Regions from separate parts of the Homo sapiens genome. Here all the other regions are linked to region 2. Evidence: fine-mapped expression QTL. A gene starts in region 2. Each other region holds a variant in brackets. All regions are shown on one strand. Distances are from middle to middle.

Region 1 (8,177 bases), 58 kb before region 2:
TTCTTGCTTTAAGAATCAATGAAGCCGGGCGTGGTGACTCACTCCTGTAATCCCAGCACTTTGGGAGGCCGAGGTGGGCAGATCACCTGAGGTCAGGAGTTTGAGACCAGCCTGGCCAACATGACGAAATCCTGTTTCTACTAATAACACAAAAATTAGCCAGGTGTGGTGGTGCACACCTGTAATCCCAGCTACTCCAGAGGCTGAGGTAGGAAAATTGCTTGAAGCCAGGAGGCAGAAGTTGCAGTGAGCCGAGGTCGTGCCACTGCATTCCAGCCTGGGAGACAGAGCGAGACTCCGTCTCCAAAAAAAAAAAAAGAATCAATGAGAAAGGCCTGCCTGATCTCTGGTTGTGTGGATCCTTCGGGAAGGAAAGTGAACAGAGGTTCCAAGTCTACAAGGGAAAAAGCCCAGCCTACTCTGAAGAGCTTTGCGGGACGGCTCATCCAAACTACTGAGCTCTAAGAACTGGAAAGCTGGAAACCCCAGCAAGAGGACACCTGCAGAGCTGGACCAGGCCCCGAAGAAGCAGATCATCCTCCCTCAGAGATCTACAGCAGGTGGGAACCCAGATCTGCAGACCCGCTTGGTTTGAGGGTACTGTGTGGGACCATCTGTCAACACTGACACCCTGTAGCAGTGAGAAGCAAAGGCAGCAGCCGGCTGAGCCTCCAGGCTCGCCCTGCTGGAACTAGAAAGTCCAAGTGGCCCCCTTCTTCCTCCCTTTTTGGTTTTGTTTGCTTTTGTTTTTGTTTTGTTCAAGATGGGGTCTCGCTTTGTTGCCCAGGCTGGAATGCAATGGCACGATCTCGGATCACTGCAACTTCTGCCTCCCACAGTCAAGCGATTCTCCTGCCTCAGCCTCCCCAGTAGCTGGGATTACAGGTGCACACCACCATGCCTGGCTCATTTTCCCCTTCCTTGTTGGATTCGCTGTGCTTCAAGGCACTGAGGCCATGAGGCAGGGTTTGCAGATACAGGATATCTACAGCCCTGATGCGACTGATCCTGACACCAAAATGGCTGTGGATCCCTGCATGGTGTGGCTGTATACTCCTGTCTCTTAAACCTGCTTCTTAACTTACTTCCCCAAATGCTCAATTCAGGGAAGGTGGATGATTTATATTAGACTCACATGATGAAGGAGCAGTAGCTCCACCTAGTGGAAACATTGAGGTTGAAAAGGTCATGTTCGGGGATGATGCTATTTTATAAAGTCAAGATATTTCGTGTCCCTCCAGGAAGCCTTCCTTGATTCGAGTTATGCTTTCTCTTAACAATCTGTTTTCCCAGTCATAGGAGTTCATGCACAAATGTAATCTCCTACTTGTTTGTCTTGCTTTCCTAATAAATTTGTGGAAGCCAGGAACAATGTTTTGTTCACCACTGTATCCCCACTGCCTTGTATGTGGTGAAACCAAAGGGTTACTTTTACACTTAATCTATAGCACCAGACTCAGGGGAGGTCTGGGAAGAATGGGAAAACGTTTTCCCTCTGCTGTCTGATGCCATGGTTTTTTCTAGCTGGTATCTGCAATTTGGAAAGCTATGGACCTCTCTCTATCTGGAAGTCTGAACTTTAGCTTTTCTTTTTGCTTGTGTTTCCTTTGTTTTGCTTTTGAGACAGGGTCTGGCTATGTCACCCAGGCTGGAGTGCAGTGCATGATCTCAACTCGCTGCAACCCTCCACCTCCCGCGCCCAAGTGATCCTCCCACCTCAGACTCTCAAGTAGCTGGGACTACAGGCACGTGCCACTATACCTGGCTAAGTTTTGTGTTTTTTGTAGAAATGGGGTTTGCCATGTTGCCCAGGCTATTCGCAAACTCTGGGGCTCAAGTGATTCGCCCGCCTCAGCCTCCCAAAGTGCTGGGATTACACGCTGAGCCACCGCCCCGGCCTGAATTTCAGTTTTGAAAGCAGTTTACATAGGCTGCCACCCTGAGCTAATGCACCCCCTGCCCCGGGCTGGTTGTTTATGCTATCAACACGGTATTTTTTCCTTAGAAATTGTACTTAAAGTTATAAAATGCAGCCGGGAGCGGTGGCTCATACCTGTAATCCCAGCACTTTAGAAGGCCGAAGTGGGTGGATCACGAGATCAGGACTTCAAGACCAGCCTGGCCAAGATGGTGAAACCCTGTCTCTACTAAAAATACAAAAAATTAGCTGGGCATGGTGATGGGCACCTGTAATCCCAGCTACTTGGGAGGCTGAGGCAGAGAAATCCTTGAACCCAGGAGGTAGAGGTGGAAGTGAGCCAAAATCACGCCATTGCACTCCAGCCTGGGCAATAGAGCGAGACTGCATCTGAAAAAAAAAAAAAGTGATAAAATGCAACCATTTGACATAACAAGAGCTTTCAGCAATGACACAGAAGGGAAGGGAACTGCATTTGGACATCATAAAACCACTTTTATTTTTACCATAGCAACATTCCAGTGAACATTTCTTGACTGACTTGGGAGAAAAGATCTGGTTTTGTGATTCCTCACGCCTTCTCCGAGGGTGAATATACTCTTTCCGAAGGACAGGGAAGGAGGCTGAACCATAAAATCATATGAACATTTTCACAAGAGGATTCCTCTTGAAGCTTCAAGGAAATTGTTTACAGTCAGAAAAAAATATGCACTTCTTGATGAAAACAGAGAGTAAACATTGCAACTCTAACCTAGACACCTATATGGGTAAAAAAAAGAAAACTGGCAAATGCGAACTCACAGTTGATCACTCTATGAAAAGGAATTCAGAGATGTTTGGAGCTCTTAACCTAAGAGGCCAATTTCATGGAAGAACTCTACCTTCTACTTCAGAGACAGAACACTGGGCTAGATACGATGCTTGTCTGGCCCGAAGTGGAATTTCTTACCATCTGTATACTCCCCCAAGACCCACAACAGATGGTTACTGAGTTGCAGCTTGCCACTGATCCTTAATGATGTCAACAAGCTCAGCTCTGGGAGCTGGCACTCCAGAAGCCCAGGTCAGGGGAGCAAGGGAAAGTGGAGATGGGAACAGAGCTCTGATTCCTGGCCCCATATTTGATACTTACTCCCTTCAAAGTCCTGTCCATGGACTACAAATTTAGCTCCCAGTTAGTAATCAAAAACCCATGAAATATGAGTTGTATTTCTAAGATATGCCTGACTGTAGTATGATGTTTAAGAGAAAAGGGCAGTGAGAACCATGAAGAAACGGCAAGATCTTTTCTTTTTTTTTTTGGATCTAAGAGTGGACTGATGAAGCACCTGGCAAGGAGCAAGAGGCCTTCTTACAAATCAAACATTGAGACTGAGATTCCTAATGACTAGGGTGAGCTCTAAAGAGAAAGGTGGCTGGGTGCAGTGGCTCACACCTGTAATCCCAGCATTTTGGGGGGCCAAGGTGGGCGGATCACTTGAGGTCAGGAGTTTGAGAACAGCC[T/C]AGCCAACATGGTGAAACCCCATCTCTACGAAAAATACAAAAATTAGACAGGCATGGTGGTATGCACCTGTAATCTCAGCTACTGGGGAGGCTGAGGCAGGAGAATCACCTGAACCCAGGAGGCTGAAGTTGCAGTGAGCCGAGATCGCATCATTGCACTCCAGCCTAGGCGACAACAGTGAGACTCCATCTCAAAAAAAAAAAGAGAGAGAGAGAGAATGGTGAGATTGTGGACATATTGGACACACAGGACATGGGGCATGGGGGCCTGAAACACCGTTTTACAGGACAGATGTACACAAATAGGAATGCAGCCTGCCATTGTGTTTCTTCCTTTCTCCTCTATCCCTTCTCCCATCCCTGGGAAACCACAGTAGCAGAACTCTCATTCAATCAAATAGCTGTCAATTATATGAGTTGCACTTTTCTCTTCCTGAACAGCAAACTGGCTTTCCTCCTCTTTGTCCTCCTCTTTCTGCCTGTAGAGCAATTTCTTCCTGTCTACTTTGCAGGGCCGATAGCTCAAATACAGTGCTATGGTGATGACACCCACTCCAAGGGCAACGGTAATAATGACAAAGAGGGTAGAGCTGATTCCTTCATCCAGTCCTGCCCAAGCACAGAAGATAGAGTTAGGAAAGTCTGAGAGTACAAAGATCACCCACCCCAGCCCACCAGGCCCACTTCTGAGTCTCATTCTTCCCAACCTAGTAGAATCTTTCTTATTTTCATGCTTGGATAAGAATCCCAAACCCCTGAGGGGTTTCCATCCTGGGCCTGGCAGCAGGGCAGCAAAGGTTACCTTGAACAATGACAGCAATGTCTTTGCTGACAGAGCCCAGCTGGTTAGTGGCTGTGCAGCAGTAGGTTCCAGTGTGGTTCTAGGTTGCCTTCTGTGGCACTTCAAGGTCAAAGACCACCCCATTCCAGGTACACACCAAGGCTGGAGCTGGGTTTCCCTTTGGGACGCAGGCGAGCGTGTGTTCCATCCCTTCCAGCCAGGTCTGTTTGGCAGAGCAACTGGATTCCTCTAACCATGGCTTGTCTGCAAAAACAGTTTCCCAAAGAGCTGAGTTCAGTGCACCACACTCCCTCCCTACCTTCACCCCCTGCTCCCTCTCCTCCCCTCACCCAAATGCTGTCCCCTTCACCCAACAGCTTTCCTTCCCAAGGGAGCACTAGCAGCTCCCTGCTTTGAGCCAACTCTTCTTTCCCACTTTCCGTATGGGCAGGGAGTCCCAGATGAAACCTAGGGTGTTCTTATGGATTTGGACTAAAATATAATGCTGCTCTGTCCATGGTGGCCCTGGGGCCCCTGCTTCCCATGTTTGTTTCTCGGTGGGTAAGGAGCTAGGTAACAGTGAACTCAGAGATGAGGATTTTTCTACTTTTCTTTTTGGTTTTTTCGTTGTTTTGTTTGTTTCTTTCTTTGTTTGTTTGCTTGTTTTTGAGACAAAGTCAGTCTCACTTCTTCGCCCTGGCTGGAGTGCAGTAGTGTGATCTCGGCTCATGACAACCTCTGCCTCCCGGGTTCAAGCAATTCTCGTGCCTCAGCCGCTCCAGTAACTAGGATTATCGGCAAATGCCACCACCCCCGCTAATTTTTCTATTTTTAGTAGAGATCAGTTTCACCATGTTGGCCACGCTGGTCTCAAACTCCTGACTTCAGGTGATCCACATGTCTCAGCCTCCCAAAGTGTTGGGATTACAGGCATGAGCCACCACGCCGGCCTATCCTGAGCCTTTTGAAGCTGACGCCAGAGGTGCAAAGCGCAGCCTCTCCCCACTGGCCACATAGAGGCTCTTGTTGGGTAGTCTCTCAGCCTGCAGCAGCCAGGGATCTGGCCTCAAGTGATGCCCCAACAGTGAGCGACTTCCCAGTACTGTCAGGGGAATCCCAAGTCTAATTCAAAGTTGATTTTTTACCAGCAATGAATGATAGACATGGTCTCCATTGCTCAAGGCTCTGGGAAGATCTAGACTAGAGAAAATGATCATTGACTTCTACCCACACCTGTGGGCCTCAGTTCTTCCCTCTGGTCCATGGTTGGCATGGTAACCCCTTACAAAGGTGTTTCCCCAGGGGTTCCTAGAGTCCTCTGAGTCACCATAATTCTGCGGTCAACAGAAATGGAGAGGTGAGAGGAGACACTCCCCTGCCCTGGCAGGTCCCACATGTTCCTGGCAGTAACCTGCATGGGGAGCCTCGCCACCCGTGTGCCCACCTGCGGAGTTATGTAGTGGTCCCCAACTAGGGCCCCTGCCACCCTCTTTCCTAAGGGAGGCTGCAGACTTCTTCCATGGCCAAAAATCCACATCTAAGTCCCCAGCACTGGCTAAAAGACCCTGTCATGGGGGCTCCCTGTCCCAGCTGACATTGGAGGAAGGATGGTGGGGGAGGCAGGGACCCTCTTCTACTTGGAGCTCAGGGACCCTCTTCCATTCCCACCTGGCTCCTCCTCTTTGCTGGTGCTGGAAGGAGCAGGGGAAAGTGGTGACTCCACCCTCCCTTGACCCCATATTTCTCAGAGCTGGTATCATCGATGACACCCCTCTTGGATCCTCCTACAGGCCTGCCTGGAGAACAGCTCACAGCACAGTGCCCTCCCAGCAGATGATGAGTCTGGGGTGCTAGTCCAGTAATGCTTCAGGAATGACGGCAGAAAAAGGAGCTCTGTTTTCTGCTCTGAAAGTGGGGAGATGGCAGGGCCCCAGCATTCACATCCTAGGCCACAGGGGTGTGGGTGTTCAATGTTGGTTGCCAACACCACTGCCAACCACTTCTGGAAGCGTTTGCCTGTTTGTTTGCTTGTGTTTCTACAGAGTCAAGTGCTAGATGCTCTTAAACTCGGGGGGAAGATTTCACCACTAGAGAGGGTGCTCTTTCCTGCTGCCATCTCTGGGGGCATCTGATGCTTGTGACCTCCAGATTATATTGAAATAGCCCCAACTCTGGGCACCAGGAGACAGGAGGCTCAGTCCTGGCCTTCTCTGCCTTCACCTTTTCCTGCTGTGAGGTTTCCACAAGGCACCCCATGCCACTGGGCCATTCTCACCTGAGAATTGAGAAAGAACAATCTGCCCCTTATGGAAAGACAAAATCAGGCAAAGGGCCCCTTGTGTTGGGGGCAGGATCCCTGCACTCAGAGGGATATAGAAGCTGAAATAACTGGGTTGGGAGCGGTGGCTCATGCCAGTAATCTCAGTACTTTGGGAGGCCAGGGAGGGTGGATCACCTAAAGTCAAGAGCTCGAGACCAGCCTGGCCAACATAGTGAAACCCCGTCTCTATTTAAAAAGTACAAAACTTAGCCCGGCATAGTGGCGGGCGCCTGTAATCCCAGCTACTAGGGAGGCTGAGGCGGGAGAATCACTGGAACCCAGGAGGTGGAGGTTGCTGTGAGGCAACATCATGCCACTGCACTCCAGCCTCAGAGACAGAATGAGACTCCATCAAAAACAAGAAAGAAAGAAAGACAAAGAGAGAAAGAAAGAAAGAAAGAAAGAAAGAGAGAGAGAGAGAGAGAGAGAGAGAGAGAAAGAAAGAAAGAAAGAAAGAAAGAAAGAAAGAAAGAAAGAAAGAAAGAAAGAAAGAAGGAAAGAAAGAAAGGAAACTAAAATAACTAAATAACTGAGTAGCACCACACCACCTGCTCTGGAGAAAGGACTTTTGTTGTTGTTGTTGTTGTTGTTGTCGTTGTTGTGGTTGTTGAAATGGAGTCTCACTCTGGCGCCCAGGCTGGAGTGCCATGGCCCAATCTTGGCTCACGGCAACCTCTGAGTCCTGGGTTCAAGCGATTCTACCTCCTCACCCTCCGGAGTAACTGGGATTGCAGGCTTCTGCCACCACACACAGCTACTTTTGTATTTTTAAGAGATGGAGTTTTGCCATGTTGGCTAGTCTGGCCTTGAACTCCTGACCTCAAGTGATCCACCCACCTCAGTCTTCCAAAGTGCTGGGATTACAGGCATGAGCCACCATGCCCGGCCTGGAGAAAGGACTTTAAATGACGCAATGTGGGAAGAGCCAGGTTGTGGAGATCTGCTGCCCTGGCTGAGGTAGCTCATGCAATCAGTCTCTCTGAGCCTCAGTCTCCTGATCTGTGAAATGGGATGATACTCATACCTCCTACACAAGACAAGTTGCAGGTCAGACGTGAGAATGCACAGGCAGGCCTTTGACAACTGGATAAGCTCTACACAGGTCTGGAAAGGAGGAAGAGACAAAAGAGGACGGGCTTCCATGGCTGGATAGGGCCTCTTTCGGCGTGATGTGTTCTGAGTTTTAAAGCTGGGGAAGAGACTCAAATCTTCAAGAGCTCTTCCAACTTTGAGATTCTCTGTTGGTTTCAGGACTATGGGAGGAAGCGCTTGTGGTCCGTGTCTGTTCCCGGGATTTCTGTTTCTTGGTTTGTATCTCTGCTTCAGGTCCAAGGAGCTGGGGCAATACCTTGAGTCTGGGTTATTCATCCCCAGGGACCTGGGGGAGCCCCACCGCCTCCGCCCCAAGGTTCAGGGAAAGGGGAGAGCAATGTGTGGGGTTGGTTCTCTCTAGTGGTCAGTGTTAGCACTGCATCCAGCTGACTCAGGTGGGCCCAGGAGTCATCAGCAAAAGTGGAATTCAGGACTCAATGGTGCTCAGAACCCCCACAATCTATTGGCTGTGCTTGGCCCCTTTTCCCAACACACACATTCTGTCTGGTGGGTGGAAGTTAAACACGCGGGGAGGAGGAAAGGAATAGGATAGAGAGTGGAAT
Region 2 (8,177 bases):
CTTTTCAGTTTTAACAGTTTCTTTGCAAGTAATAACAGACCAGACACACAGCTACCAAAAATCGGTGGTAAGTAATGGTTAGTCCCTAGACTGGATTCTAGAGCCAGATCAGAAACAGGTTTGATGAATCCTAGCACCATCACAGTGAGGGTGGGCAAGTGACTGGATCTCCATGCTTTGATTTCTCAAACAGAGATAGAGCCAGGCATAGAGGCTGGTGTCTGTAGTCCCAGGTACTCGGGAGTTTTTAGAGGTTGGAGGATTGCTTGAGCCCAGGAGTTTGAGGCCCCATTAGTCAAGCTATGATCATGCCACTGCACTCTAGCCTGGGCAACAGAGTGAGACCCCAACTCTTTAAAAAAAAAAAAAGAGGTAAAAATAGTGTGTACCTCATATATGGTATCTACCTCCTATGTGTTGTGATGATTAAATGAGCTAATTCACGTAGAAAATGCTCAGTAAATGTTACCTATTCTCTGCCTACTGTGTAGGAAATCTTCCTTTTATCTCTACCATGCCTCAGATATCTCTATTTGCTCCCTAACACCTTAAGGATATTTTATCATAACACAGTTAACTCATTGTTTATATTATCTGATATATCTGATATTAACTGATATTATATTATTGTTTATCATTCCCTCCCACTACACTCAAACATTGTCTGTTCATACATATTTGTTAAGTTACAACAGGGATCAAGGGAGACACAGTATATACCCCAAATAACTGAAAACAGGTACTCAAATACAAATATATATTCATAGCAGCACTACTTGGAATAGCCAAGAAGTAGAAGTAGCCCTACTGCGCATCAACAGATAAATGGATAGGGCCAGGCATGGTGGTTCATGCCTATAATCCTAGCACTCTGGGAGGCCAAGGCAGGAGGATCACTTGAGCTAAGGAGTTTGAAATCAGCCTGGGCAACACAGCGAGATGCTGTCATAAACAAATAAATACAAAGACAAACAGATGAACACATTGTGTTATATACATACAATGGAATATTATTCAGCCATAAGAAGAAAGGAAGTACTGATACATGCTACAAAATGGATGAACCTCAAAAACATTATGCTAAGTGAAGGAAGCCATGCCCAACACCCACCTATTATGATTCCATTTATATGAAGTATCCAGAATAGATAAATCTAGAGACAGAACCCAGATTGGTGGGTGCCAGAAGTTGGGAAGAGGAAGAAATGAGGAGCAACTTCTAATGAGGATGGAGTTTTCTTTTGGGGTCATTATTTTGGACCCCAAAATTTTGGACCTAGGTAGAGGAGGTGTTGCACAACATTGTGAATGTAATATATACCACTGAATTGTGCAATTTCAAACAGTTAATTTTATTACGTAAATCTCACTTCAATTTAAAAAAATAGCCAGGTGTGGTGTATACCTACTCAGCTATTCAGGAACTATCACTTGAGCCCAGGGGTTTGAGGCCAGCCTGGGCAACCTAGCAAATCACTGTCTTAAAAAAATACAAATTTTAAAATAAAAAGATAAATTGAGAGAGAAAAAGATCCTGCCTTCGTAGAGTTTATATTTTAGTGGGTGAGCCACATCAGACAGTAAATCAGCACACACTTAAGTAATGATGTACTGTGATAATCACTTGGTGGGAAGTAGGGTGTGAGAGAACAGAGAGGCTCTGAGATGGGAAGGGGATGGGTAGTTTGAAAAACTGCAAGGAGACCATCTGGGCCAATGCTTGGAGAGCCAAAGGCAGTGATTTAAAATGAACCCAAGGAGGTAAGCAGGGACCAGGTCCTGCAGAGCCTTAAATGTCACAGGAGGGAGTGTGACATTCAATCTAAGAGCAATGGGGAGCTGGGGAGGGTTTTAAACAAGGGATTGACAGGAACTGAGTTATATTTAACCGTTTGATCTGCTTTATTATTATTGAGACAGTGTCTTACTCTGTCACCCAGGCTGGAGTGCAGTGGCACGATCTCTGCTCACTGCAACCACTGCCTCTTGGGTTCAAGCAATTCTCGTGCCTCAGCCTCCTGAGTAGCTGGGATTACAGGTGTGCACCACCACGCCCAGCTAATTTTTATATTTTTAGTAGAGACATGGTTTCACCATCTTGGCCAGACTGGTCTCGAACTCCTGACTTCAAGTGATCCACTCACCTTGGCCTCCCAAAGTGCTGGGATTACAGGTGTGAGCCACTCCACCCAGCTGATCTGCTTTTAAATGCACTTATTAGCTTGCCCCTTTTCTAGGGTAGAAAAAATCTTGTGTTTTCTGATGCGACCCACTGGGTCGCATCAGAATTACCTAGGAAGCTTATTTTTCAAATACAATACTGAGAGCCATTGGATTGGAGGGGTGGCTGGCGGAGGTATTTTGGAGTAGCTTCCCAGAGGACTCTGATTCTCCACTGCCCCTATCACTTTGAGAATTACTGTTGTTCTAGAAGCTTAAAAGGATTGAAATGGATATTAGCTGCCTTATCATGAACTCTTAACCCACTTTACAGGGATGGGAGGGGCCATGATTCAGTGACTTTAACAATTCCAGTGGCCAGTCCCCAGACTGACAGGTTATCGACTCTTGGGGCAATAGAGTGGGATCTCTAAGTTCAGGAGGTAAGAAAACAGCAGCAGCGGTGTTTATCACTAGAGGCATGAGGAGAACTAATTTCTAAAAAGCACTGGAGAACTATACTGTAAAAAAGATCTGGGGTGCTATGATGCAAGGAAGGAAGTATTACTTGGTTGGGGCTGGAAAAATAAAGCAATTATAGTAAAAAAACTAAAAAAAAAAAAAAGTCTAGATCCCGGCTTCTTGACAGTGTGGTCTGAGAAGCAACAGCATCGCTGGCAGCTTGTTACAAATGCAGAGTCCTGGGCCCTGCCACAATCTGCATTTTTAATAAGAGCCTCGAGTGTTTTTTATGTGCTCATTAAAGTTTAAGCAGCACTGGTCCATATCACGGCGAGGAGATCCAGACCATCAGAGGGTAGGCTCCCTGGCACAGCTGACGCATTTTTGAATACTTTGATACAGCACAGTGTACCTGAAAAGATACTGCATTTTTGAAAATTAAGTGCTATAAATACTGGAGAAAGACCTCTTTTTTTAAACTGCGGGGAGGTTTCTCATAAGCCAAATTTCTTTTGACTAGAAGCATTTTCTGGGGAGTAAAGTACCAGGCTTCCTTAAAGTGAGGCGGAGCCACGTTAAAAATGTGCGGTAGAACTCAGCCTTGGCCAAGTCGACCGTTCACCAGCTGGGTCAAGTCTGGAGCCTCCTAGGTCCCTTGGCAGTTCCGAGCTACCAGCATGAGCTTTTACAGGAAGTTGAGTTGGCTGCTGTTCTGCCCCACAGAGCAGCTGAGTCTTTTTTTTTTTTTTTTTTTTTTTTGATGAGTTTCACTCTTGCCGCCCAGGCTGGAGTGCAGTGGGGCGATCTCGGCTCATTGCAACCTCTGCCTCCAAGGTTCAAGCGATTCTCCTGCCTCAGCCTGCCGAGTAGCTTGGATTACAGGCGCCCGTCACCACACTCGGCTAATTTTTGTATTTTTAGTAGAGACGGGGTTTTCACCATGTTGGCCAGGCTGGTCTCGAACTTCTGACCTCAGGGGATCCGCCCGCCTCAGCCTCCCAAAGCGCTGGGATTACAGGCGTGAGCCACAGCTACCGACTCTGAGTTGAGTCTTTAACGCCGAAGATGCAGAAAGGAGACTTGACAAAACTATTTTCGGGGAGTGTGGCCGCGGAATTCGGTGAGGGTGCTATACCGGGAGAGAGTAGTAGCAACGGCTCATTCACTGTGAAGCCCCTAAGTGACCTTAGACCTCTGACCCCGCGCCTCACTCGGCGCTTCCGCGCGCAGCTTCCGCTCCCGCCCCTCCGACGAAAGGCTGGGCCAAAGGTGGGGGGGTGGGGCTCTGAGGTCGGCAGTTAGGGGCGGTGCCCGCTGGGGGCGGGTCTCGCGAGGGGCAGGATTCGAGGAGGCACTCGAGCATTGGGCACCAGGTAGAGGCGGGGCCTAGTGCTGGGCTGGGTTGGGCGGGGCAGGGAGTTCGTAGCCGCCTCTGGGTAACTCGACTCGGGCGGCCAAACCTCCGGAGGCCGGGGACGGAAGGCGGGCCCGCAGCAGATCCTGGATCCGGAATCTCCCGGGCAGGAGCGGAATCTGTCCCGAACCGGGTCTGTGAGGAACTCGCGAACTTGGATTAGGAAATCCCGGAGCCCGGATCGACAAATCCCGGAACCCGGAATTAAGATCGCCAAGTCCCGGATCGCGGAGCACAGAGCACGGAGTGGACTCGACGCGGAGCCCGGAGTCCGGATCGCGGCACCGCGGGACGGGACGGAGCGATGTCGGGCCGAGGCGCGGGCGGGTTCCCGCTGCCCCCGCTAAGCCCTGGCGGCGGCGCCGTGGCTGCGGCCCTGGGAGCGCCGCCTCCCCCCGCGGGACCCGGCATGCTGCCCGGACCGGCGCTCCGGGGACCGGGTCCGGCAGGAGGCGTGGGGGGCCCCGGGGCCGCCGCCTTCCGCCCCATGGGCCCCGCGGGCCCCGCGGCGCAGTACCAGGTGAGCAAGGAGGACGCGAGCGGACGGGGGCGAGAGGCGCTGCGAGGGCGCCCGGGCCGGCGGCTGAAGGGGCCTCGAGTGAGGGCCCTGGGGAATGCATGAGGAACTCCGGGAGACGGTGGAGGGCGGGCCGGGACCCTCGGGCTGCGGCGGGTCGCGGTGGAGAAGTGGGAAGGGGAAGCAGGTTCTGCAGCGGAGGGCTGGAAGCAGCTGGGAGGCCTGGGGGCTTCCGCGGCACAGGGATTCCGAGTGACTGGGAGATGGAGGAGTTTGGGGAGCCAGTGAATTGTGGCGGGTGGGTTGAGAAGTCTAGGGTAGGAGGGCTGGAAAGTGATGAGAAAGTTTGGGAAAGGGCCCTCGCTGAGAAACCGGGGTTACCCTGCATCGGCCTTGGTCCCAGTCCAAGTCTGCCCTGTTTTTTCTGATTGGGAACTGGCGGAGCTCTAGCGTGTCTGAGATGGCTCCCGGCTGCTAATAAGGAGGAAGGAGCCTGGCTTCCCACGGGCACGGGACGCTGAGGCTAGGGCCAGGGGATTCCAGCTTGTGCACGGGCGGACTTTACTCCTGAGGCAGGGCCAGGCGCCTTCGCTGGGAGGACTCCAGCTTAGACCAGAGACGGTGGTGGCCTGGCCTGAGGGGAGGCCCAGCCCAGTCACAGGCCGGCTCTCTTCTGGGCTTTCTGCCTCCTGTCATCGTGTCCGGGAGTTGATTAGTCTGGACGTGCAGAGTGGAGCCCTGCTGGTCTGGGGCCGGAGGAGTCTGCGAGAGTTGCTTCAAAGAGTGCTGTCCTGACCCCTTTGGGGTTTTGAGAGCTGCTCAGATTGCAGCTTCAAAAGCCCTTGCAAAGCAGCGACTTCTGCTCAGTGTGTGAGGACCTCAGCCTGACCCTGCCAGTGCTCTAGTCTGCTGTTCAGGTTGCCCCAGAGGGCTTGGAAACTGTGCCCATCTGCCTTGTCACCCTCTCTGCATTTTTATTTGGCCTTCAGGTTCTAACTCCACCACGTCCGAAGCCATGTGCCCAAGCATTTGACACTGGCTTCTTGCTCATCTACGGGTTTGCTGTGGGCTTCCTCTGTTTTCGACTCATGTCTCCAGGCAGAGGTCCTTAGGGATCCTCGTGGAGTATACACAGCCTACCTGCCCCACTGGGCCCTCACTTCTAAGGAGATGGCTTAACTAGGGACAGTGACTGGATTTTTTTTTCCTTCTTACTCCTCATTCTTCCTCCTTTCTCAAGAGAAAAGAGAGTCTGGGTATGGGCAGAGACAGACCTGGTCCCAGGGATTCCAGCTGGGGCTCATCTCTCCCACCTTGCTGTCCCCGTTGGGGATTCATGGGCCCAGGGTGTTGCTGAGGGCTCCCTGCATCATTCATTGTAGCCCTTGGGCCTGCCCACTGAGACCTGGCCTGGGCACCATCTGTGGGCCTTTGGCCTTGGAAGGACCTGGAACAGACAAGCCGCTCCAGTTTCCTTGGCATGCAAGCCATAGGAAATGTGCCCTTGGGACAGCCCCTGAGAGGATGGATTCCACATGTTTTGGTGGGGGGTGGCCTTGGGCCTGTGGCAAGGCCAAGCTGGCTGGCTGGTTAGGCCTGGGCTGCTAGCTGTGCGGAAGTAGGAGATGGCCCTGAGTCTGGGTTTCCCATCCCACTAGCTTTCCTCCTCCTGGCAGGAGAGGTAGATGGGAAGGAGAACCCAGCCAGCTAACTTTGGCTGAGTTTGAAGAGGATCCTATTTGCCTTCTTTCCAAGTCCAGTTGTATGACTGCCAGGAGAAGGGACTTGAGATCTGGGAAACAAAGGGGTTCCTGTCTGTTAGGGCTCATGAGATGCACTTGAAAAGTGAGAATTTGAGGCCCAAGCTGAGCAAATAGTTGAAAGAAGGGAAGTGATGACCTCCCTTCCTCCAGAGGGTGGTTCTAGCTGTGGATCACAGTTAACAGAGGAACCTAAAAAAAGAAAAAGAAAAGAAAAAAACCTCCAGGGCAGGATATGGTGGGCTCACACCTGTAATCCTAGCACTTTGGGAGGCCCAGACAGAAGGATTACTTGAGACCAGGAGTTCAAGACCAGCCTAAGCAACATAGTGAGACCATCATCTCTTAAAAAAAAAAAAAAAAATTTAGCCAAGCATGGTGGTGTGCGCTTATGGTCCCAGCTACTCAGGATGCTGTGGCAGGAGGATTGCTTGAGTCCAGGAGTTCAAGGCTGCATTGAGCTATGATCCTGCCACTGCACTCCAGCCTGGGCAACAAAATAACAAAAACCTCAGATTGCTGGGTTCACTCCAGAGAGTTCAAAAAGTTCAAAAAAAAAATTTTTTTTTTTCTGATACGGAGTCTCACTCTGTCGCCCAGGCTGGAGTGCAGTGACATGATCTCAGCTCACTGCAACCTCCGCCTCCCAGGTTCAAACAATCCTCTGCCTCAAGCCTCCTGAGTAGCTGGGATTACAGGCGCCCACCACCACGCCCGGCTAATTTTTTTGTATTTTTAGTAGAGACGAGGTTTCACCATCTTGGCCAGGATGGTCTCGAACTCCTGACCTTGTGATCCACCCGCCTCGGCCTCCCAAAGTGCTGGGATTATAGGCGTGAGCCACTGCACCCGGCCTCAAAATCCTTTTTACTCATGGGAGAGTGGGTGGTATGTTCCCCAACTGAGGCCCTCAGGCCCAGGTTCCAGGAGCATCAGGGCCACATTTGGGGCAGGGCAAAGCACGCTCACCGGAGCCCTGGATTCCTCATCTGGGGTTCAGGGGATTGATCCAGGCCTACCTGGTCCTGCTGCAGGCAGGGAGTTAGGGAGGCTCAGAGTGCTGGACTGCTTTTTTTTTTTTCTTTAACTCCTGAGTTGTTTTTTTTTGTTTGTTTTGTTTTGTTTTGTTTTTTGAAGTGGGAGGAGTTGCTAGCGCCTATAAGCCCTATGGAGCTTGGCAAGGCTCAGCTGGGACTTGAACTATAAGCAGCCTTCCCCTGGGGCCCTGAGTGAGCCAGGGGCTCTGGGCCCAGGAAACCTGGAGCAGATGTCTGGGTGGAGCCTATTCCAGACCCTGCCTATGAGGCCTTGTCTTGGGACTTCCTGTTACCGGAGCACCTGCCCAGGAGGGATGGGTGGTGCTGCAGGTTTTGTGAACACTGCAGCAGGGAGCTTCCTGGGGACCACAGGGCCCTCGCTCACCTCTGCAGGACCCACTGCTTCAGTTCTTCCCTGTCTTTGTCTCAGGCACTAGGAAAAACTAGTCTGGGATGTCTGGGCCTGGGCTTACAGCTGTAGCCACACTTAGTTTTTTTCTATAATCTCAGGCCAGAGAAAGAACAATCTTTAAGGCAGAGAAAGAGGCTGTCTTTTGCCTTTCAACAGCTCTGATTAATCTCTTCCTGATGCAGAGAGACTTTGGCAGGACTCCCAAAGCCCCAGAGCCCCCCACTTTGAACTTTTTATTCTCCCAAACACTTCCGTCCCACCCTGCTCCTCCTCTCCCCATCCTCACGTCTGTGGGTCATGTTTCTTTCCATCTCCGCATCTGGTCAAGAATCTGACCCTCTGTGTTGGGAACATGGGTTTAGTGCGGGATGAAGAGGTTGGGGAAGAATCTCATCTCCATGATGCTGGGGTGGGG
Region 3 (8,177 bases), 26 kb after region 2:
AGATGGGGTTTCACCATGTTGGCCAGGCTGGTCAAACTCCTGACCTCAGGTGATCTGCCCACCTCAGCCTCCCAAAGTGCAGGGATTACAGGCGTGAGCCACCGTGCCCAGTCTGGTAATTTCTTTAGAAAGCCTGGAATGTTGGATATTAGACAGATGTCCTTTCCACTCAGGTACACATTTAATGAGGATGAGGGGGAGCTTCCGGAGTGGTTTGTGCAAGAGGAAAAGCAGCACCGGATACGACAGTTGCCTGTTGGTAAGAAGGAGGTGGAGCATTACCGGAAACGCTGGCGGGAAATCAATGCACGTCCCATCAAGAAGGTGGCTGAGGCTAAGGCTAGAAAGAAAAGGAGGGTAAGTGATGGGGCCTCCAGAGATTGGGTGGGGTGGGGGTGGGGGGATGGGGAAGAGGTCACCTGACAGGTTCCTTTGCAGATGCTGAAGAGGCTGGAGCAGACCAGGAAGAAGGCAGAAGCCGTGGTGAACACAGTGGACATCTCAGAACGAGAGAAAGTGGCACAGCTGCGAAGGTAATGGGAGGACACCACAAAGGTACACAGGGCTAAAAGTGCAGCAGAAAGCAAGCCTCTAACCTCTTCTCTTCCCCCCTGTAGTCTCTACAAGAAGGCTGGGCTTGGCAAGGAGAAACGCCATGTCACCTACGTTGTAGCCAAAAAAGGTGTGGGCCGCAAAGTGCGCCGGCCAGCTGGAGTCAGAGGTCATTTCAAGGTGGTGGACTCAAGGATGAAGAAGGACCAAAGAGCACAGCAACGTAAGGAACAAAAGAAAAAACACAAACGGAAGTAAGCAGAGCTGCCAGGCTCCCAGGAGAGCATGGGGACTAGGAGGAAGGGTGTGGCATGGCTCAGTCTGGCCCCCTTGATTACCGGCCTAGCCCCTGCTCACATCACAGCTGTCTGAAGAACAGTGAGGTGGAGTGCCTAGAACTCCCGTGGTGGTCCTGAGCAGAGAGGAGGATGTCCTCCTGCCTGCCTGAAGGTCTCCCATGAAAACACTGCTGAACTGTGTTGACACTCATGACCCTTTTTTTAAACCGTTAAAGGGAAGTTCGGTGTTGGAGCGATACTCAATGTAGTCAGTCTACACCTGGACGTGTGGGCCACTTAAGCCCTCCCCACCCCCATCCTATTCCTGAATAAAACCAGGATAATGGAAGAGTTGTCTTTTCTGACAGTTTTAATAAGCACTTCCCTATCTGTCCCTACACTGTGTGCGGCACTATTCTTAATATGTACCAATTCATAGACAGAAATGACAAACGATCCACAGGTCCCGGTAGTAAAACATTTACTAGAGAGCAAGCAGAAAGGAATGCACATCTTAAAGAAACCTTCACAAAGTCACAAAAGTCAAAGTTTGTATATTTCTTTTCCTTTTTATAAACGATAAACAAAAATCATCAAAATCATTTCAGCAAAAGACTTTTCTATCATTGGGGCAAGTTAAAAAAAATACAATGAGATAGAAGACACTTTAAAAGCTGTTGTTGGGTTTCTTGTTTAATTTTAAATTTAGCAATACCATCTCAAACCTGGAGCAATCCTGGAACAGTTACCAGGATCACCTTTTCCCTTCAATCCTTGTGGCTTCTGGGAATCTTCAGAGCCTGGGTCTGAAAGGTGTTTCCTACATGTCTCAGGGCTGGATGCAAACCTGGCTGGGGACCTGAGCATCAACTCCCATTTAGAATCAGACATCTCCCTTCCCTGCAAATGTCTACAACTACCAAATTGCTCCCCAACAGTTAGCTCAATGGATTGAATTTGCAGAAGCCAACTCCTAAAATGGGGACTGCCTGGCCATACAACTAAGAAAAAGAAGTCAATTTATAGATGCTTATAAGGTGACACCTTAGTAAAAAATATAAGCTACATACAATATAAACCTAGAGTGAGTTTTGTGCCCTAGAAGACCCTTTATCCCAAGATAACCTCAACTTACCCACATGACAACTCACCTAGAGCCAAAAGAAGCTTCCCAGCTCTCACTGCTTCCAAGGACCAAAACAGCTTCCCAAGAAAACATCCGAAAATTCCTTCTGATGAAGGGGTAATGTCTCCAAGCTCCAGCTCTCCACTAAGGGCAGGGGGTCCTTACACTTTGGACCCCAACCCAGCCCTGAGACACCTAGTTACCAAAATCTTTCTAAAAATTAAGGACAACTGATTTCACGCTTTAGCACATCCCCTCTAACTGTCCCATCGACTTTTCTTGCGTTTAGGCGGCTCTGGGACAGCAAAGCCGTCAGCTGTCTTATCTGTCTTGCTGTCCACCTTGTCCATCTTGCTGCTGTCCACTTTGGGTTCCATCTTGGGCTCCATCTTGCTCTCACGATTAAAAGCTTCTTTCCTGCTTTCCCCATTCCGACCATCATTTGCACCCCGGTTCTCCCCATGCCGGCCTGCGCTTCCTCCATGTCTGTTCTCCCCGTGCCGATGGCCATCAGTATGACGGCTGCTGCTTTCTGGATGGCGGTATCCATCTCCATGGCGACCACCATCTCCGTGACGTGGACTATCGCTATGCCGATTGCCAGTCTCTCCGTGACTGTGACGGCTGCTGCCCCGGTTCTCAGTATATCTCTCTCTTTTCCCGTTGCTGCCCCCAGTCCCTTCTCGGCTGTTATTCCCTGAAGCTGTGTTGTTGACTCCTTGGGCTCCGGCAGACGGGTAGGTCACAGGGGCACCACTGATGTTGCCAGTATTGCCAAAGCCTGGGATGCCCTTGGCGGCACTGGTGACGGGGCTGTCAGGACTGTTATGGCCCTGTTGTGCTGAGTTAGTTGGAACAGAATTCAAGCTCCCTGCACTAGTCCACCCACTTGCCCCAGCAGCAGAACTTCCAGCCTTCTGATTACTTAAACTGGCTGCAACAAAGTGACTCTTGTACTGTGACTGAAAGAGAAAGAGACATCAGGAGTAGGTAAGATAGCAAGTTCAAGAAACTTGAATATACAACTTGGCAAATGATGAGGTTTACAGAAACTCTGTGCTATCCTGGCACTGTGAGTTTAGTGTCCTGATGGCCCCACAGTATGGTCCCTTTTGTTCTTGTGCTATAAAGGAAAACTTGTGGATCTCTGTGGAGAGATGGACCCCCAGTGTTCTGAAATGTACTTTTATAGCCTGATTGGCTAGAATAAAGCATCTATGTATTTAGCACATTTATCTGCATTCAAAACCAAAAAGTTCTGAAAACTTAAAAAAAATTTTCATACTGCAATTTAAGTTTGACAGCAAAACCTGCCTTGAACTCATTCTATCGATTCACCTTAGTGTGACTATCAGTAAATTTTGCTTCAGAAGTGAGTTGGAGGTGGGTGCCTGGGAGGTGGGCAACACTTCAGGCTGTTGGGAAGGGAGGGAACACACACCCTGCTGCAGGACAACAATCCCAGGCCCCAAGTGTGACTCAAAGTAGACCAGCACAAGGGGTTCTCTAGATCAACTTGCATTTCCAACTAAGCTACTGTTAGGTTTATATTCAAAATCCAAGCAGCGTGAAGACCCTAAATCTAGCATCAAGCCTAGGCGCCCAGCTACAACCAGGAAAACTAAGCCCCTCTGTCACTGCCCAAGAGTTACTGCTGAAAGTGCTTTTAATGAAATGCTTATTTCAGACCTGGAAAGCTGCTTTCATTGCCGTTAGTCGATCTCCCATAGCTCCTGTGGAAGGCTTGTAGGCCTCATAATTGCTCATTACATTGTTATTTCCTCGATCCTAAAAAAATAAACACATCTATGAGAATGAAAAAATAAGCAGGAAAGCTCACTGCTATAGACTAGGCCTCATTATGAAAACCCTTGAAGTGGGAGCTACAAAGGAACTGGATACTTTTAGAAAGCTGCTACTGCTTTGTGAGAAAAGACACAGTGACAATCATTTAAAAATGCTTATGCCCTCAACCCAGAAATTCTATTTCTGGAAATTAACCCTATTAAACAGAAATGCAATCAGATTATGCCCAAAGTTGATCATGTATTTACATAAACACTTCCAATTAATTAAGTAAAAATTACGTTAAAGATGAAAAGGCCCTGAATAGCATATTGTGTGACTGCTCAGGCCCTGAATCAAGACCATGAAGGGTCTGAATTTCGGCTTGAACACTTGTCACTGTAACCTTAGGTGCCTCAGCATTGTTATCTGTACTAACTTCCATTCAGTTATTTTGAAGATTAACTGAGCCAAAACATCTGATTGCTTGGAATGGTCCTGGCACATATAAAGTGCTCAATAAATATTACCTATTATTATGCATCATCATCATTATTATTATAATGTGGGAACAGAGTATGTAATTACAAAGATGCCAAGTTTAATGCTCCAGAAAAGTATACTGGCAGCTTTCTTCCCTGGCTTGGAATCAAGGTGACAGAAAACAGGCAGTTAAGAAAGGCCACCAAAAGGGTACATTTGTTACCTGGTTTGTGAGAAAAACTAGCTCCCGACTTGGAAATTCCTGATCCGTTCCTGAGTTTAATGACAAGATATGGCTAGACTTTACAGTGACCCTTTGGCAACATTTACCTAGCAGCAGGCTTTAGGC[C/T]AGTGTTGAAGGGCTTATAAAACCAGACTGCTGGGCCCCAACTCCAGAGTTTCTGATTCACAAGGTCTGGGGTTGGGGATGAGTTTGCATGTGCTGCTGGTCCAGGGACCACAGTGTGAGATCACTGCTAATCTAGAATAATTTCCTGAGCAAGCCTAGTCAACCAAGTACACAAAGATGCTTCTTCAATAGAAAGTTACCATAAGAATGAGCACTGCATTGACTCAAATCAGATTAAATACAAATTCCCTTCTAGACAGGGCTTTAAACTCACTGAGGCTTTCCTGGGTAGATGAGAATATTCCTAATGACTTTCAGGACATGAGACCAACTATAAAGGCACTACTGTAGTAGTCTAGACTCACCATGTTCTCAGAGCCCAGGCCAGGCCGCTCCCTGTAGCCTAGGCCTCCTCCACCAATGTTCAGCTTTTTTCCTTTCCCTCCTTTGAATCGAGATTTCCGAAACCAGGCATTCTGCATTGAACAAAATTCAAGGTTAAGTCAAGGGAGGGAGAAAAGAACAGAAGAAGAGAACGAGGACAAAGAGGAAATTAAGTGGGAAGGGGGAACTTTTGCTTAATTTTCAGCCAGCACTACGCTAAGGGAGGAATTTTCACAGGAACCACAGATTGGTTTCTCTTTGGTAGCATAATCCACCAAATTTGAAAAGTGGCTGAGATCCTTATCTAAGGCTTCCTACAGTGCTCCCTCCCTCAAGGCTCTCCTGGAAGGGAAGTTGTTCAGGTAAGCTTCAAACCCAGAGGAGTAACTTTGGCTACTTCTAACTTCCTTGAGGAAAATGAGCTTATATTTTATTTCTCAAACCATGTATTATTGGACGTAAACATTTGGAACTTAAACAACTGGTATGTTCAGAAGCAAAGGAAAAATGCTATGTGAAGTGAGGCTTATCAGAACTGACTATAGGGACAGACTCCCAGAAAGGATGGTAGCCACACAACTGAAAATTTTATTTACCCGCAGAGCGTAAAAGTTTTCATTGAACTTGACCATTGCCACTCAACATATTTACTCACATTCTCTTAAGAATGCAGGGCGGTGGCTCACGCCTATGAATCCCAGCACTCTGGAGGCCGAGGTGGGCGGATCACTTGAGGCCAGGAGTCAAGACCAGCCTGACCAACATGGTGAAACCCCGTCCCTACTAAAAATACAAAAATTAGCCAGGCATGGTGGCACATGCCTCTAATCCCAGCTGCTTGGGAGGCTGAGGCAGGAGAACTGTTTGAACCGGAGACGCAGAGGTTGCAGTGAGCTGAGACTGCGCCACTGCACTCCAGCCTGGGTGATAGAGTGTGACTCCATCTCAGAAAAAAGAAAAAAAAAAAAAAAAAAAAAAAGCAAATGTCTCTGGGAAGGTTAAAGTTTTATCTGACAATCACATATTACCAGCAAAATAAAGTGCTTGAGAGGTAGGGCAGCAGGCTTGGACAAAGTCCTGAGCACAGAAAGCCTGAGGTACAAAAAGAAATGGAAGAAAATGCCAAAGTCAAAATGTGTCCTGTTTTAAAAGTTTATTTAGGACTAGCTCTCTGTGCTCAGGAGCAGGGGAGGAAACATTATTCTCTTCTCTCCTGCAGTGCAGGTCCTTTACTCCTAGGACCAGAAACTTGGGCACTGCCACATTGCAGCTGGGTTGTACCAGTTGTGTGAGCTGGCCTAGGCATTTGACAAACTCTTAACAGTTTCTGCTCTCAGAAAGTGTTCCGAACCCATTTGTAATTTGGGGACAGCATGGATTCAGATGACTCCAGGTTTGATTTGTTAGAATGCCTCACTTAGCTTTAGATTGGAGCACACCTGGAAGAGGGCAATCAGTGTGGTCAGAGGTCTGAGATCTCTGCAAGGAACAGTTAAGAGGCACCATACAGGCTGGGCACGGTGGCTCACGCCTGTAATCCTAGCACTTTGGGAGGTTGAGGCCGAGGCGGGCGGATCACCTGAGGTCAGGAGTTCGAGACCAGCCCGACCAACATGGCAAAACCCCATCTCTACTAAAATTACAAAAATTGGCCAGGCGTGGTGGTGGGCGCCTGTAATCACAACTGCTTGGGAGGCTAAGGCAGGAGAATTGCTTGAACCCAGGAGGCAGAGGTTGCAGTGAGCCGAGATCGTGCCATTGCACTGCAGCCTGGGCGATAGAGTGAGATTCTGTCTCAAAAAAAAAAGGTGGGGGGGCACTATACTATACACATATTGTTTTAAAGGCATCACACATTTTTAGCCTCCCAGAAGAAAAATTTTGTGGGGGAAGAGCAGTAAGGAGAATAGTAACCATCTTTGAGATTAAATTTACTCCTAAGTGTGCTATGGGGTAGAAATTACAGCGACAGATTTTAGCACAAAGGAATAGCTTTTCAAAACAGATGCTGTTGAAAGAAGAAGACCAGATAAGACTAGATGAATTTTAGTATCTCACAATTCCTATCTGTACCTCATAAGCCCCACATCCTCCTAGCCACCCAACTTTCTTGTCAAGTTTTTATGTTATCTGTTCCAGGACTGCTAAAATGTCTTGGTCTTATAACCAGGAGCAATTGAAAGTGTGCCCAGCCCCTCACCTGCATTGCCAGATCTAGGAGTTCCTTAGAAACGTGTTGATTGGCTCCTTCCAAGTTCCGGACCAGGTCACCAGCAAAATTGCTGTCCTTGGGAGTGAGTAGGGTATAGGCCACACCTTTCTCACCCGCTCTTCCTGTGCGGCCAATCCTATGCGTGTGGGTATCAATGTCTCGTGCCACATCATAGTTAATGACAGTCTTAATTGAAGGAATGTCCAGACCACGGGCTGAAATAAAAAGCAACCAAATTCTTTTATTCTTCATCTGTAGTCAGAAGATCAAAGTAACCAGAAATGCTAGTGCTAATAAGCCACATTTCCTTTATCTAGGCAAAGCGCATGGGTTTGGTGAGCTGAGATACAGGCATGTTAAGTCACCACCACAGATTCTATGATGTTAGGCCTTCTAGTGTAAGGGACTTTTATTTTTTAGAGACGGAGTCTTGCTCTGTTGCCAGACGGGAGTGCAGTGCCATGATCTCGGCTCACTGCAACCTCCGACTCCCTGGTTCAAGCAATTCTCCTGCCTCAGCTTTCCAAGTAGCTGGGATTATAGGCACGCGCCACCACACCCAGCTAATTTTTGTATTTTTAGTAGAGACGGGGTTTCACTATGTTGGCCAGGATGGTCTCGATCTCCTGACCTCAGGTGATCCGCCCGCCTCCACCTCCCAAAATGCTGGGATTACAGGTGTGAGCCACCGTGCCCGACTGGGACTTTTATCTTTTGCATCAGTAATCTGCCATGCCCTCTTCTCTTGCACTGGGAATATATATTTAAAATGTGTCATGAAGCTGAGAAGTTCTCTCCTTTCTAGGAAAAAATATCAGTGTTTAAGGGTAGTTATTAAAACTTGACAGAACAAATCCAGAAATTATATTCCAAAAACTGTTCTCATCCTGAGTTAAGTTGCCCAACTAAGCTGTGTATAGTAGATCAATGTAAGGGTAAGGTATCTACTATATTCAGACATACAATAAGGGCATTCACTGCCTTTTTTCCCAGAGTGACTTCTAGCTG

Alleles and levels. Alleles are on the strand shown, and positions count from the first base shown. SD is a standard deviation of normalised expression in the study named. Not every link is listed here.
With allele C in place of T in region 1, the expression in cerebral cortex of the gene that starts at base 4,330 in region 2 is lower (small effect, 0.38 SD a copy in GTEx).

The links. PIP is the estimated chance that this variant, and not a neighbour inherited with it, causes the effect.
Region 1: its variant is fine-mapped to the expression of SMARCD2 in cerebral cortex (GTEx, PIP 0.98).
Region 3: its variant is fine-mapped to the expression of SMARCD2 in whole blood (INTERVAL, PIP 0.97).

The regions. Positions count from the first base shown.
Region 1 is chr17:63,896,927-63,905,103 of GRCh38, reverse strand. No RefSeq gene overlaps it. Among named protein-coding and RNA genes, the nearest start is that of CSH1, 4.4 kb to the right of the region's middle. The variant T/C (reference allele first, on the strand shown) is at 3,422.
Region 2 is chr17:63,838,838-63,847,014 of GRCh38, reverse strand. SMARCD2 (SWI/SNF related BAF chromatin remodeling complex subunit D2) reads left to right here and starts at 4,330. Exons shown (of 13, transcript NM_001098426.2): 1 at 4,330-4,556. The coding sequence starts at 4,341. RefSeq lists a cis regulatory region at 2,339-2,728, silencers at 3,838-4,007, 4,378-4,607, 7,432-7,726 and enhancers at 5,328-5,407, 7,432-7,726.
Region 3 is chr17:63,812,435-63,820,611 of GRCh38, reverse strand. DDX42 (DEAD-box helicase 42) reads right to left here. Exons shown (of 18, transcript NM_203499.3): 15 at 7,158-7,384; 16 at 4,939-5,049; 17 at 3,646-3,744; 18 at 1,295-2,918. The coding sequence ends at 2,214. It overlaps FTSJ3 (FtsJ RNA 2'-O-methyltransferase 3), which reads left to right. Exons shown (of 21, transcript NM_017647.4): 19 at 174-357; 20 at 439-533; 21 at 618-1,179. The coding sequence ends at 810. Among named protein-coding and RNA genes, the nearest start is that of PSMC5, 11 kb to the left of the region's middle. RefSeq lists an enhancer at 1-787. The variant C/T (reference allele first, on the strand shown) is at 4,574.